Linked DNA regions of Homo sapiens. The protein of the gene in region 1 binds, or shares a complex with, the protein of each later gene. Each region holds a gene or a part of one and is shown on either strand. Other genes may lie near its edges.

Region 1 (7,971 bases):
TTTCGGTTTAACAGGCTATCCATGACATATAAAATATTCCTAAGCATGTAAATTTTGGTCTTTGGTCTTAAACCTATCTGCTTGCAGACTGACTCAGACTTTCTATAGAACACTGGTAACAGAAACATACCCAAGTATGACTTAACTATAGGAAATTTAAATTACTAGTTTGTTCCCTACCAGGGATGCGGTAGCACTACCTCTGAAGTATCATTCATTCAAATCTGCCTTAAGCCATGTGCATTAATCTAGCAAAAATAAAATGAGGAGAGGAAAGGCACTATTATTTTTCAACACTCATTATGCATGAGATACTATGCTAGGTACTTTACATATATTGTCTCATTTTTAAAAATGCATCTCAGTCGTTAAAAGTGTAAGCTTTGAGATCAGACAAACCTGGATTTGACTCCTGATACCACTTAAGAGTTTAATGTCTTTGAGATTCAGTTTCATCCTACCTAAACTGCCTAGCATAAAAATTTATTGAGAATTTACTGAGATCATTAAATGGGATGATACTTAGATCAAAAGAAAAAAATGGAAGCGAAATTTTAGGAGCCAAGGAATCTCTGTCAAGGGGAGAAAAGGCTGGGCAAAAAAACACATATTTAAGGGCAGTAAGTAAAATGCTGGTTCAAATGTAATCCCAGGACTATACCACTCAATATGCCAGCATACAGATAATAGCTTCTTTTATTTATACTTATATTAAATATATTCTTATAGGGAATTTATCCCATAGAAAAACATACTTGCATTTATATTAGATAAAAATGGGGGAAATTTTATCCCATAGAAAATCATGCTTGCATTTACATTAGATAAAAATGGGGGAAAATGCTCTTTTATCTAGGCCGGGTGCAGTGGCTCATGCCTGTAATCCCACCACTTTGGGAGGCTGAGGTGGGCAGGTCACTTGAGGTCAAGAGTTCAAGAACAGCCTGCCCAACATGGTGAAACCCTGTCTCTATTAAAAATACAAAAACTAGCCAGGCGTGGTGGCTGGTACCTGTAATCTCAGTTACTCGGGAGGCTGAGTAGAATCACTTGAACCTGGGAGACAGAGGTTGCAGTGAGCCAAGATCTAGCCACTGCACTCCAGCGTGGGCAACAGAGCAAGACTCTGTCTCAAAAAAAAAAAAAATCTATTACACGATCAATTCTATTCGAAATAATTTCAATGCAATTCAACAGCAACTTCTTGAACACTTCCTAGGCATGTTTTCCTCAATGGCAGAGACCATATCTTCACCTATGACTCCCCAATATTTAATCAATGCCAGAGATAAAAGTGCTCAGTAAGTATTACTGGAAAAAATGTGTATCTAGCATAATACAGACTATCTATTATTAATCCAAGGGCAAAGAATTCTAAAAGAAAAAAGATTTCTTTTGGCTTTTAGCCAAAAAACCCTCCACATATTCCTCTTGAAAATTAAACCAGTCTGGTTATTCATTTTGTATCCCTATTGAATCTTACCACCTCCTTAAAGTTAAAATGGCTCAATGTTATTATTTTACTTACCCACAGTTTCTACGTATGTTTGAAGCCAAGGAAAATGCATTCCTGCACCACTGAGCACAGATGTTTCCACTTCTTCATCATCTGTCACAGGCCCTTTTAATTCTTCACTGAAATCACTCATACCTATTACAAGATGAGATATCAGTTACTTTCTGTACATCTTAATCCACAGTCTTCTGAGTTGTACAGAAAAACGGCTATCTTTTTATCTAATAAATATAATTTGATTAGCAAAATGCATTATACCTGTCAGCTCTTTTAAAGTAAAAAATGAATTTAACTATGTCAGCAACAGCCAAAATGAATGATCCATTAAAGACCGAACCACTAATGTTTCAAGTCCATGTAAAGATAAATAAGATACTGCCCCTCTAATTTAAAAAATCTCAAGTCTAGACGAAGAAACAGCAAAACGTATAATAACAAAACAATATGAAAAGTACAGTAAGAATAGAAGTAGCAGCTAATATTTATTAGGCCCTTACTATGCACTAGAAGTATAAATTATCTAATTTAATCCCCACAGCAATCCTGAGGTGGGTACTATTACTTTCTTCCATGTGAAGGTTGAAAAAACTGAGGGGCTTAGTGAAATGATGGAACCTGCCTAACATCACAAAAAATGGTGAGGACGATAGTCTAGGAAATAGAACACCAAACTACTTGGCATGACTAGAATTCGAGGTGCGTGTGGAGGAGGGGTGCGGAAGGTGAGAAACGAACCTAGAAAAATCATCATAAGCCAAGGTGAGTTTAGACTTACTCCTAAAGATGCTCAGGGCCCCTTCCTCATTACCCATATGAAATCGAGTATTAGTGCCCCTGATACTACCTCCAAATTTCCCCTATTTCCCCTCTTCAATCCTACAGCACTACTCTAGTTCAAGACCCCTTCAAACAGTGCCTAGATTACCGCATCAGCTTTCTAAACAATTACCCTGGCTCAGATTTTGCATCTCTGCATTATACCCAGAGTAAACCTTCTAAATTCAAAGCATGTGGCTAGGAGTATGAATTATAAGTAACAACTGAATTTGAATCCGACCCATCACGTGTTTTCAGGAGTAGTTACACAAATCCTCCCTTTCCAAATCCTCAAAAACCCAAATTGGTGACCCGCAGTTGCCACGGCAACCAAAGCTTCTCTATCCCCTTCTTTCGTTTTCAGACCCCAAGGGTTTCAGGTATTAGGAGGAAATATCAGGAGAACATGGATGAATCCTGACACACCCCTTCCCGTTCCATTTAAACGCAGGAACCACGGGCGATATCTGCGGCACTTACCCGCCTAAATTTAGAGCTCCTCAGTAAAGCTAAACTCAGTCTCCGACTCCGGCCCACGTGAAGAAATTCCCACCGGAAGACGAGTTAGGAGAGCTTTATATGAGCAGGCGCTAAACCTGGTTTAGGTATTTAGGCAGCGCGCGGCCCGGCTCGTAACTCCTCCTGCTGCAGCAGGCGTATCGTTGGCCTCGCCTCGACCCCGGAAGTGACTTCTGGAAGTGACCCAGGAAGTGACAGTGAGCTGCCTCTCTGCGATTGGTTTTGCCCGAGTTTTATTTTTGTCTGTCTCAGCTAGAAAGTGGGAGACTTTCATTTAAAATGGAAATTGGGGCGAGGGGTTGGCGGCTGGGCGAAGGGAGCATTCAAAAGCGGAGAATGTCACTTTACCCGAGAAATTCACTACGATGGGCCATTGGTTTCTGCTCGGCTCGCAGGCGCACTGCACGAGTGGAGGTGTGGCTAGTGGCTGTGATGAGATAAATCCATGCATAGCCTTTTCATTGCGAGCTTGAAAGTTCTTTTCTATTACAGTTTTAGCTTTAGGTTTAATTGGTTCGACTGCCTTCTCCACAATTTGGGCGAGAATTTCCTTTGCCTTCTCAGCAAAAGTTGTTCTGCGGACCCGTCTGGGTCAACTTTCATGAGGGACATTGAGACAAACAAATGAAATATGGGTTAAAGGTAAGATGGTTAAACCGTGTGAAATGAGAGACAGTTGAGGGGTTCTAGGGAAGATGATCCCGGAAAAGGACTGCAGGCCCATGGAAACGCAGTGTGCTTCTCCAATATTTGGAGGGCTGATCAGTGAAAGAAGGATCAGACCCTTTTTCTTAGCAGCAGAGAACAGAACTAGGACTAATAAGTGAAAGGTAAAGGGAGGCTGCTTTCAAGTCACAGCAAGAAAGAATTTTGTCCACAAATGAGGATGCACAAATATAGCATAGGCTCCCCCAGGAATCACTGAGTTTCCTCTGTGTAGGTGAACAGTTTGAGTAGAATCGGAGTATCGGAGAGGAAATTAAAGGGTCTGGTAAGAGTTTGAGGCCGGGCGCGGTGGCTCATGCCTGTAATCCCAGCCCTTTGGGAGGCCGAGGCAGGCGGAAAGTTTGAGCTCAGGAGTTCGAAACCAGCCTAGTCAACATGATGAAACCCCGTCCCTACAAAATAAAAATAAAAAAAAATAAGCTGGGGTGATGATGCATGCCTCTAGTCCCAGCTACTCGGGAGGATGAGGTGGGAGGATCACCTGAGCCCAGGGAGGTCGAGGCTGCAGTGAGCTGTGATCACCCTACTGCACTCCAGCCTGGGCGACAGAATGAGACCCTGTCAAAAAAAATTTTGTACATGGATTCCTTAAAATGCTACAAATAGTTGATTCTATGTTGTCTTCTGCATAAAACAATATGCAGTAGTTAAGGACTTGCAAGAAAAGTTCCTTCTGCTGCTCTCTCTGTCATTAGTTCTTGAGTCCTCACTCAAGCTTGTGCTCTAACTCTACAGGCAGGGCTAACATAAATTATGCGTAGTCCAGGAGACCACACACAAAATAACATACATAATCATTACTTTCTTGTCTAGAGGCTTAGTCTGGCTACTTTTCTCCCATTGGCTTGAGGTGTAAATTCACCAAAACCAGCCCAGAAATGATTTTACATGGAAAAAAGTTTATGTTCTCCCGAAAATGAGGAAGAGCTTTCAGATTTTCCTCGAAGTTCTCAAACAGCTCTAAGGAGCAGTAGGAAACGTGCCCTACCTATGCTTTTTCTTTCCCATGCTGCAATTCTGACAGAAAATGTGTTGGAGAGAAGAGATAAAAAAAATCAACTAGATCACATCCAATAGCATAAACAAGAAGGAAGGAGGGAAGGTTGCCGTGGCAGGCATCTGTAGTCCCAGCTACTCCAGAGGCTGAGGCAGGAAGATCGCTGAGCTCAAAAGTTCAATTCCATCCTGGGCAACATAGCAAGACCATGTCTCAAAAAAAAAAAAAAAAAAGGCATGACAAATATGAAAACATAAAGCATGCAAAGACTTTTCTAGATTTCAATCTATAAGAAAACATGTCCTAAGAAAAACATGTTCTTACAATTACTTTGTGCTACAGAGCAACTTAATATGGTGATGAATTATGTTGTTTTTAAAGTTGCAAACTGTCATTTAAGGAATATTATTTCCATGAACGCTTCCTGTGCAATCTATTAAAGAACAAACTTCACATAGCCAAACAGTTGAAGAGACCTCATCATAAATAGACTATCCTATATCACAGCTAACGAGAATAAAAAAGGAATGTGGCATGAAAGCATAAAAATAAAAACATCTCAGATAATAATATAGAGAAAACCAAAATACATGGGCTAGAATTCCACCCCAGGGACTGTATCCTCAAAGACACAGGTTTTTCTTCCTTTTTCTTTTTTTTTTCTTTTCATGTTTCAGTACTCTGAGCAGCTACAAAAAGAAGACCAGTCTATCCTGCTGGAGACAGTGGCCACGTGAAGAAAGAGCTCTTGCAGTATGAAAGACCACATGGAAAGAGAGGCCACATGGAACCAACAGTCAGCATCTTGGTTTCGGACACGTGAAGAAATTCATCTCAGACTGTGTATCCTAAATCAGGCACTTGCTGAATCTAACTACATGAGTGAGACCAGTTGACAACACATGGAGCAGACATGAGCTGTTCTCAGTGAGTCCTACACAAATTCCTGACTCACAACACTGTGAGCAATAAAATGGTTGTTATTTTAAGCCACTGAAGTTTGCAGTGATTTCTTACATAGGAATAGATAAATGAAACACAAACATTGATCATTTGCATCTTCTATCTTTTTTATGACTAGTCTTATTGGAAATTACCAGTTTATTTCTGCCATGGTTAGAAAACAAACTCTGAAATTTTGATACTTTAAAATTTTTTTGAGACTTACTGTGCCCAGAATATAGTCTATCTTGGTGAATGTTCTGTGAGCACTAGACAAGAATATGTATTCTGTAGTTATTGAGCATTGTGTCCATCAATGTCAACGTGATTAAGGTGGTTAATAGTTGTCTTCAGATCTTCTATATTGTATTGATTGTTTTATGTGTAGTGTTGCTATTAATTATTGATACAGGAGTGTAAAACTTAAACTATGGCTGTGAATTTGCCACTTACTTTAGTTTTGTCAGCTTTTCTTTTGCATTTTTGAAGCTCTGTTATTGGGCATATAAACATTTATGGTTCGTGTGTCTTCCTGATGAATTGACCATTTTATCATTATGAAATGTCTTTATTGCTGATAATACTCCTTATCTTGAAGTCTAATTCATCCGATATTAGTATAGCCACTGCAGCCTTCCTAGCTTACTGTTTACTGGTATATTTTTATCCATGTTTTTACTTTCAACCTGTGTTTTTTAATTTAATGTGCTTCTCTTATAGACAACAGATAGTTGAGTTTGTCTATCATTTTGCTATTTGTTTTCGATTTGTCCCATTCAGTTTTGTGTTCCTTTGTTCTTTACTTCCTGCTTTCTTTTGGGTTAATTAATGTTTTTATATTTCATCTTAATTCCTCTGTTGGCTTTAACTGTATCTTTTTGCATTATTGCTTTACAGTGTTTCTGAGAATTATGATATACATTCTTAACTTATCACAGCCTTAGAGTTAAAATTATGATACTTCATGTAAAATAAAAGAGCCTTGCAATAGTAAAGTTCTACTTACCACCTCCCCAAGTCCTTTGTGCTTTGTTGTCATATATATCATATCTATGCACATTGTTATTTTTGCCTTAGTCATATGTATCGCAAAGAAATTAAGAGAAGAAAAGTATATATTACCTTTTGTGTATTTACCTACATTTTGCTATTTCCAGTTCTTTTCATTCCTTCCTGTTTGTGGTGAATTATCTTTAAGAATAGCTGTCAAAAAGTATTCACATTCTTGTATGTGCATGTTGCTTCTCCCTTTAAGAAATAGAATCAGCTGGGCATGGTGGCTCACGTCTGTAATCCCAGCAATTTGGGAGGTCAAGGCAGGTGGATCACAAGGTCAGGAGTTCAAGACCAACCTGAACAACATGGTGAAACCCTGTCTCTACTGAAAATACAAAAAAAAAAAAAAAAAAAAAATTTAGCTGGGCGTGGTGGCACATACCTGTAATCCCAGCTACTCAGGAGGCTGAGGCAGGAGAATCACTTGAACTTGAGAAGCGGAGGTTGCAGGGAGCCAAGATTGCACCATTGCACTCCAGCCTGGGTGACAGAGCGAGACTCTGTCTCAAAAAAAAAAAAAAGAAATAAGAAATAAAGTCTGTGTTCCCACCCCTTGAATCTGGGCTGGTCTTTTAACTTTGATGAACAAAACATGGTGAAAATGATGTCATACCAATTCTAGGCCTAGCCCCTAAGAAGCCATACACCTTTACTTTTATCCTCTAGAAAGCTGGCCAACAAATAAGTAAGTTTAGGGTAGATTACTAAAGAATGAAAAACATTTCAGCCAACCATCCCAACCATTTCAGCCACACAGCTGAACTACCAGACATGTGAATGAAGCTAGTTTGGAAGTTCCAGCCCTGGCTAAGCATCCAGCTGAATGCAGCCACCTGAGTGACCCCAGCCAATAATATCCAGAGCAGGAGAATCATCCAGGTAAGCAAAGCTATAGAATAGGTAGAAATAATAAATAATTATTATTTTAAATTACTAAATATATTACATCAAAAGAATAACTAAAACATTACAGATTTCAGTTTCCATCTGGTATGTCATCGTCTTTCATCCTGAAGAATTTTTTTTAGCATTGCTTACAGTGGAGGTCTATTGGTGTAGAATTTTCTGTTTTTATTTATCTGAAAATGTCTATTCTGCCTTCAGTTTTGAAGGATTCTTTAGATATAGGATTCTGGATTGGCAGTTTTTGTCCATCAGCACTTTAAGCCCTCTGATGATGTTAACTTCTTCTTTTTGATGAGAAGTCAGCTATCACTTTATTATTTTTGTCCATGTGTAATGTATTATGTTTCTCGGACTGCCTGCAAAACTTTTCTTTCCCAATACTTGGTTATTTGCAGTTTGACCATAATGTGTCTAGGTGTGATTTTCTCTGTAATTAGACTATTTGGCATTCACTGAGTTTCCTAGATTTGTCCATTTCTTTTATGATAATTTG
Region 2 (6,726 bases), on another chromosome or scaffold:
AACCTCTGCCTCCTAGGTTCAAGCAATTCTCCTGCCTCCGCCTCTGAAGTAGCTGGGATTACAGGCACCCGTCAAGGGATTTTCCTGCCTCAGCCTCCCCAGTAGCTGGTATTATAGGGGCCTGCCACCACGCCCAGCTAATCTTTGTATTTTTAGTAGAGATGGGGTTTCACCATGTTGACCAGGCTGGTCTCGAACTCCTGACCTCAGGTGATCTGTTTGCCTCGGCCTCCCAAAGTGCTGGGATTACAGGTATGAGCCACCACGCCCAGTTGAGGACACTGAATTTGGCCTGGACTGAACCCCAAGGCTGCCCCCCTGTCCTTGCAGTCACAGTGACAGGGAGAAAGCACAGGTCACCCTTCCTTCCACAGTGCCGACTGAGAGCGCCGCCACACCCCCAGAGACGTGTGTCGGAGTTGCCCAGCCCAGCCAAGCTCTGCCCACGTGGGACCTCACTGCATTCCCAGCACCGAAAGCATCATAGTTTTCCCCAGTTATATGTAGCATAAATGGTTTAATCATAAATGTCTCCCTTAGGCATGATAAACATTTTAACACCCACGCGAGTCAGTGTATGATTGGGCTAGCTCCTGTTTGTGTGAGTCACATGCAATTCCTTTCACCAGCCAACCTGAAAAAAGACCTTTCTCTTACTATGTCATCAGAAACCAGACAGACCCGGGTCCCTGCAAAATCTCAAGTGAGCATTTTCCCCACAGGAAAACAGAATCTTCCACTGCAGCTAGAGAAACTCCGAGGAAGAGGGACTTGATGCTTTAGACATCAAAATGAGAAGGGGAGGGAGGAAAGAAAGGGGGGAGTCTGTGAGGCACAACAGAGAATTCCCCCAAACTGACATGACCGTGACCCTCTGCTCAGAGGGCACTATCGACAGCCCACAGGTGCCAGACCCATGTCCCAAGGGAGAAGGAACATCAGCCATCATCTCTCTGCATGAGCTCAGTGTCAGGTAGTAGCTGTGGCGGGACGCTGTCCAGCCTAAAAAACGTGACCATTCCAATTCATCTTCAGCTGCCAAGTGTATTTAGTCCCTGAACCTGGATCCAAGGCATCTCCCTGTAGGAAACATCAGACCGGGGCAGAGATTGACAAAGCAACCCACAACAGCAGCTGCCAACGGCCGCTGTGCCCACCTCATCAGCAGCTCTGCAGGGGCCTCACTCCACCCTCACCAAACACGAGGAGCCAGCACTCCTGGCCCCCATTCCACTGGACAGGAAGGCGTGAGAACTGAGGGACCTGCCTGAGGCCCCCACAGCTGAGGCGCAGCGGAGCCCTGCCTCCCAGCACAGACTAAAATCCCAGCAACACAGGCCCACCGGCACCTCCAGCCTGCCTTGCGGGATGATCTTCAGGCGAATATACAAAATACAAAAGAAACTACTACTGTATTTTGTTGCCCTGTCCCTTCAACTTGGCTCCAAATTGCTTGGCTCATCATCACAGTGGCCTCCAGAAGGTGGCGAGCTCTGCTTCTCAAGTTTCAACTGTGGAAGGCACATCTGGTCCCAGAGGAAGGATGAGGGGCTCTCTGGGGCTTGAGGGCAGCCCACCTTGTGTCCTCAGAAGCCCATTCGAGGCTTCTTCCGGAGGGGCTGAGAGCTAGAGAGGACGGGTGTGTGCTGCTGGGAGCGAGTGGCCCGGACGCTGGAGGCCTGGGAGTGGGGAGGTGTGGTGGCACAGCCTGGGGTGTCCCTCTGGGGTGGTAGCTTGGCCATGTAGTCACGGAGCATCTGCCGCTGCTCTGATGGGACGCCCTGGGCGCATGCATCCGGAGTCAACTCCTGGGAGGGCGGGGTCGTGGGGGGCAGGGGCAGAGCATCAGCAGGTGGCCACTCAGGGCTATGAGGGGAGCTGGTGTCCTCTGAGGGATCCACATGGCCACTGAGCGAAAAGCTGCTGGACAGCTGGGTCCGGCGCTTGGGCCGCCTGGTCTGTCTCCCGGGCTCCGAGGTCCTGCCCTGCTGCCTCTCCCACCAGGCAGCCCCTCGGCCTGCCCAGGCTTCCCCCAGGCGCTCACTGAGCTTGTCCTCTAGGCCTGACTCGGGTGCAGGGGGTGGCTCTGCCGCAGGGAGGGAGCCCAGGTCTCTCTGCAGCAGGAGCTGCCCTCGGGCCATGGCCTTGCGGAGCACACCCAGCCGCTGCCCTTCCTCTTCCTCCCTCCGCAGCTCTGTGCTGCCCAGCATCTGGCGGTGGGTGAAGGTGGGTGCTGTCCACACAGGAGGAGCCAGGGGCACTTTTAGCAGGGCCTTCAGCCACTGGCTGCAGCCGGCAGTGTCCTGGGAGGTCCAGGAAGCTGTGGGGGCATGGCAGTCAGGTTGGGTGTCGCCAGGAGGCCCAGCATCTCTGCGGAGGCTGGAGTCCACCTGGGGGCGGAGCTGCTGGTAGAAGACATCTCCCGCCGCCGAGAGCTGGAAGAGCACCAGGCCTGGTGTGGGCGCTGAGGGCAAGGGCGGGACGACGGCAGCCAGACCTGGTGACGGGAATGACAATGACCTCCAGGGCCTAGCGGGGGGAGGGGATGTTTTCCACTGCGCCCCCCAAGCTCACTCCCCCACCCAGCACACCTATGGTCGGTGCTTTCAGGCGCTCCTGCAGCCGCCACTGGATCTTAGGCTCCAGCAGAGGAAATGCAGGGAGGGAGTCGATCCTGGAAGGAAGAGACTGGGGGGGGCCTGCCAGGCGGGGCACCGACGCCCCTTCTCCTGAGGAAGGACAGACAGCTGAGGCCCTGTCCAGGCCCCGACCGCCCCATCTCCCACACGCCGCCCACCCTGGCCTGGACCCTCACCTGCCAGGTGCAGCAGCTGCAGCTGCCCACCCTGGCCTCCGAGGAGCAGGGGCTGCACGCAGCTGGGCCGGGGCGGAGGCAGCAGTCGGGCCAGCAGGAGCGGGGAGGGGAGGCCATGGTTCCACTTCAGCATCGGCACCAGGGGAAGGCGCTCGTCCACTAGGTAGAGAGAGAACTGGGGCCCGAGAAGGAAGGGGGATGTGGCCGAACTTGGGAGCTGAGCTGTGTAGTGGCCCTCCAGGCCCCATGTGGCTCTCCAGGTGAGTGCAGAGCCCTGAGGGGCAGCAGCATCTCCCATCAGCCTCCACGTGCCTCTCAGACTTCACCTGCCAGCCCTGAACAGGTGCCGCTTCCTTCACCAATTCTGACCGACAGTCCGGTGGACAGACAGAACAAGTGGGAAAGGGGTGCTCAGAAGAGGTGTGGGGGAGCCTTGCCAGCAGAAACCTGCCTGGCCTTCTCGCAGCCACCCCCACTCTCCTGACCCGGGAGCCTGTGCTCGAGGCACGCCTACGAATGTCCCCGGGAGGGCGGGTGGAGGACAGACCTGCTTCCTCAGAGCCCCCGCCTCCTGCACAGCAGAAACTCTCCAGCTCTGCACGGAAGCCCCACCCCGAGGCCCCTCCTCCCCTGCTCCACCCCTGGCTGCACCTCGAAGCTCTACTAAGGGGAGGCCCTGGGAGAGCTTCCCCACCTGCCTGTTAGCACCGACTGTGGGATCCACTGCGTGTTTGGGCCACAGATTCATCCAGGGTTGAGTTTGGTTTGCTGGGTGGTTGTCTGGGCCCAGCAGAGCCGCTGGTAAGCAGCAGCCTCTAGTGACCATCTGAGACAGAGCAGAGGTGGGGCGGGGCGGTGTTGTGTGCCACTCACCTGGGTACAGACGAGATGAAGAGTAGGGGGGAGGCATTTGGGGCTGGAGTGCCCCAGGTACTGGGTAAGCAGGACACGTTCCCCTTTCTGGCACGAAGCCTCTGCCCCCAAACGAAAAAGCAACAGACCACAGCCCGGCGGGCCCTGGAAGATAAACACAGGGTCAGCCCTCCCCACAGTCCCAGGCCGGTGACGCTGTCCTCGCCCAGGCCGCAGCCAGCCTGGGACTCACCGCTCTGCGGCCGCTCCCGCAGTCGGGGTGGGTCCTCTGCCGCCAGCCCGTACCTGAGTGTCCAGCATCTTCACTCCGGTGCGGTCACCCACGGTCAGCACCCGAGGGTGCGCAGTGAAGTCTGCCCAACGCCACGAAGAGGAGTCCCGGAACACGAGGGTCTCAGGGTCCCTGTAGATTTGCCGCAGCCTTGGGGAGACAGGCAAGCCGTGGGCAGGGGGACAGGCTGATGGGGAAGGGGCTCAAGGGTCGCGACATGCTCAACAGGGCGGAGTTCAGTTCGTTAGGGTGGGGGGTTTCACAGGAAGCGGCGATACCCATCCTCAGGGCTCCACAGGCAGACGGCTCCCGAGCGGCTGCAGATGGCCAGCTCCCCGGGCAGGTGAGGGCTACAGGGCAGGAATGCATTCACATCGGGCTGCTCAGCCCTGCCTCCAGCCCCTCCTCACCGACCAACCTGACCCCCCTCACCTGAGGCTGATCCCCGTGGCCCCTTTCTCCACCTGCATTGCCTGCAGAAGGGTTGGCTGCCACTGTTTACCAAACTTCCACACGGCACAGTGGTAGTCAGAGCGGACGGCCAGCAGAGCTGAGGAGGGATGGAAAGGGCCAGGGGTCAGGTAGCAGGTCAGCCAGTGAGGGAGGAAAGTGTATATAAGGGCCTTACTTTCTCCCTGGACGGTGCATGTCACCACTTGCCGGACAGGTCCCTGGAGCTGGATGCGTCCAGGTTTCCCAAGGAATTGGGGATTGTCACCTGGGGTCAGAACGACCTCTTGGAAATCTGGGCCTCTCACTAAGGATCAGTGCACGAGCTATGATCACTGCAAGCCCCCCAAATTCCTGCCCTTCTCTGGACCATGCCAAGAGCACCTCCTCTACCAGAGGCGAGCCCGCTGGAATCTCCTGTCTCGCAAGAAAGGATACGCAGCCTGTCCTGGGCGCCTCCAGCAGGGTAGACCAGCTGCCCGAACTGGGGTGTCCTTCCAGGAACCCAGGCCAGCGCGCCCCCAGTGCAGGCCTCATCCAGAAGCAGCTGCTCCCACCGCAGCACCAGCTCCTCGTGCAGCAGCTCTGCCAAGTGGCTCGCCACCGACGTGCCCAGGATGGGGCCCCCGAGGATAGAGAAGCGGCGCTGTCGGTTGCTGAGGTAAGCCCAGGGACACCTGGGGACCAGAGAACAGCAGGAGGATCACTCGGTGGCACTCAGGGGAGGACAGGTCCCATCCCAAGGAGGCCAAGTGCAGTGGACACATTTCTTATTTACCTAGAATTTCTTCCTTTGGGAGACCACCCCATCCTGTTCCCATGCCCCGGAAGCAATCATGTGACCCAGACCTGGCCACCAACAATATTCCATTGCCCTTGCCACAGTGACTGGTTCACAGATGGGTGTGAGACCCAAGCCAAGCCAACCAAAGTCCTTTCTGGGACTTCTGGTGCCGCAGGAAGGACACTGGCTCTTTCCTTAGATCATAAGCCATCTTGCTGCTACCTAGAGACAGCCTGTCTAGGGAACTGTGCAGGGAGAGGCAAGTGGACGAGACAGGAAAGAGAGACACAGCTCTATGAACATTATTTGAACACCTGGATGCAGCTGTGCCTGAACTCCACAAATGTAAATCTGCTTTCCCCTGAGATGATTTGGAGTTGGAAGTCTGGTATAAGAAAGTACAGCTCAGACTGCATGGAGCAGGGGGGAAGTGGGTATGACGGAAAGCTGTACGTGCGTCCTAGCACCTCCTACATCCCCACCACCAGCTATGCCTATCCATCTCCTCCTTTCTCATCAGCCACTTGCCCCCAGGGCTGGTGTCCACCGAGGTCCTGGAGCAGCTTCTTCACACTGACCACTGTCTTCTTCTTAGTGCGGCTCTGCATGGAAAGGCCTTGTCAGGCTCACACACCCTCGAGTTCACCCCTGAAGGACAGCAGGGAGTCCCCACCCCTGGAGTCACGGGCCACTCACCCCCGCTCCCTCCAGCTTGAAATTCTCCAGCATCAGCTTCCCCAGGGGCGCAAAGGCTACGTCTCCATGATCCAAGAGGAACCGGCTGATCTGGGGAGAAGAGGAGGCCAGGTCACTAAGCACAGTCTCCAGGCTACGCAGCACTGTCCCCCGTGGGCCCACTCACCTGCTCAGTCACATCCAGCACGACTCGGGGCCGCTTCCGATACCGGCACCCTCCGCGGAAAAGCAGGTCCCGGGCAGTCAGGCCAGGGTCCCAGGGATCTGAGAAGGAGGTTACGGAAAGGGCTGGGGAGGGCACAGGAGTGCGGCCAGATGCCCTGGGCGACTGGAGGTATCCAAGGGTCCTGAGCAGGCACAGGCTTAGCAGGGAGAGGAAGGTCTCAGGAGCGGGAGCAGTGGGAAGAATAGGTGGAGCAGTGTGGAGTGAGCCCGGGGGAATGAGACCCTTACCGATGAGGGGAGGCAGCATGGGGAGAGGCCCAGGGGTTGCCGGCTCCCACAGCAGGTCCTTGGTCACATGCAGTGCCCCATTCTGAAGGGAGGACAATCGCAAGGACAGTATCATGATGAATGCCCTCCCTGGGCCAGGCTGTGCACAGGCATTCATCTCTTATCAACTCATCCAATCCTCACAACAATCCTGCGAAGCTGGGATGACTGGCATTGTCATTTTACTGCTGAAGAAACTGAGGCACACTGCCATTTGCCCCAGAAGACAGAGCCGGTAAAGAGAAGAGCTGGGATGTGAACCCAGGCAGCCTGACCCCAGAGCTCCTGTTTCCGACCTCCACCTGTGCTGGCTCTCAAAGAAGGAAGCCCCTCATGCCACCAGTG

Evidence for each region.
Region 2: TAF1A (region 1) and TAF1C share a complex: the UniProt entries of both Homo sapiens proteins name them as parts of the transcription factor SL1/TIF-IB complex.

Annotation. Positions count from the first base shown.
Region 1 is NC_000001.11:222,586,915-222,594,885, forward strand, and holds the start of TAF1A (TATA box-binding protein-associated factor RNA polymerase I subunit A), read right to left. Parts: upstream 3,020-7,971; 5' UTR 2,813-3,019; intron 1,652-2,812; 5' UTR 1,650-1,651; coding exon 1,529-1,649; intron 1-1,528. UniProt on the Homo sapiens protein: Component of the transcription factor SL1/TIF-IB complex, which is involved in the assembly of the PIC (pre-initiation complex) during RNA polymerase I-dependent transcription.
Region 2 is NC_000016.10:84,177,355-84,184,080, forward strand, and holds the end of TAF1C (TATA box-binding protein-associated factor RNA polymerase I subunit C), read right to left. Parts: intron 6,425-6,726; coding exon 6,343-6,424; intron 6,154-6,342; coding exon 6,056-6,153; intron 5,980-6,055; coding exon 5,890-5,979; intron 5,796-5,889; coding exon 5,722-5,795; intron 5,087-5,721; coding exon 4,848-5,086; intron 4,705-4,847; coding exon 4,588-4,704; coding exon of another isoform or gene 4,510-4,587; coding exon 4,392-4,509; intron 4,310-4,391; coding exon 4,238-4,309; exon of another isoform or gene 4,110-4,237; coding exon 3,974-4,109; intron 3,833-3,973; coding exon 3,689-3,832; intron 3,642-3,688; exon of another isoform or gene 3,514-3,641; intron 2,991-3,513; coding exon 2,816-2,990; intron 2,730-2,815; coding exon 2,592-2,729; intron 2,498-2,591; coding exon 1,587-2,497; 3' UTR 501-1,586; downstream 1-500. Other genes in the region: DNAAF1 (dynein axonemal assembly factor 1), read left to right, coding at 160-252, 375-487. UniProt on the Homo sapiens protein: Component of the transcription factor SL1/TIF-IB complex, which is involved in the assembly of the PIC (pre-initiation complex) during RNA polymerase I-dependent transcription.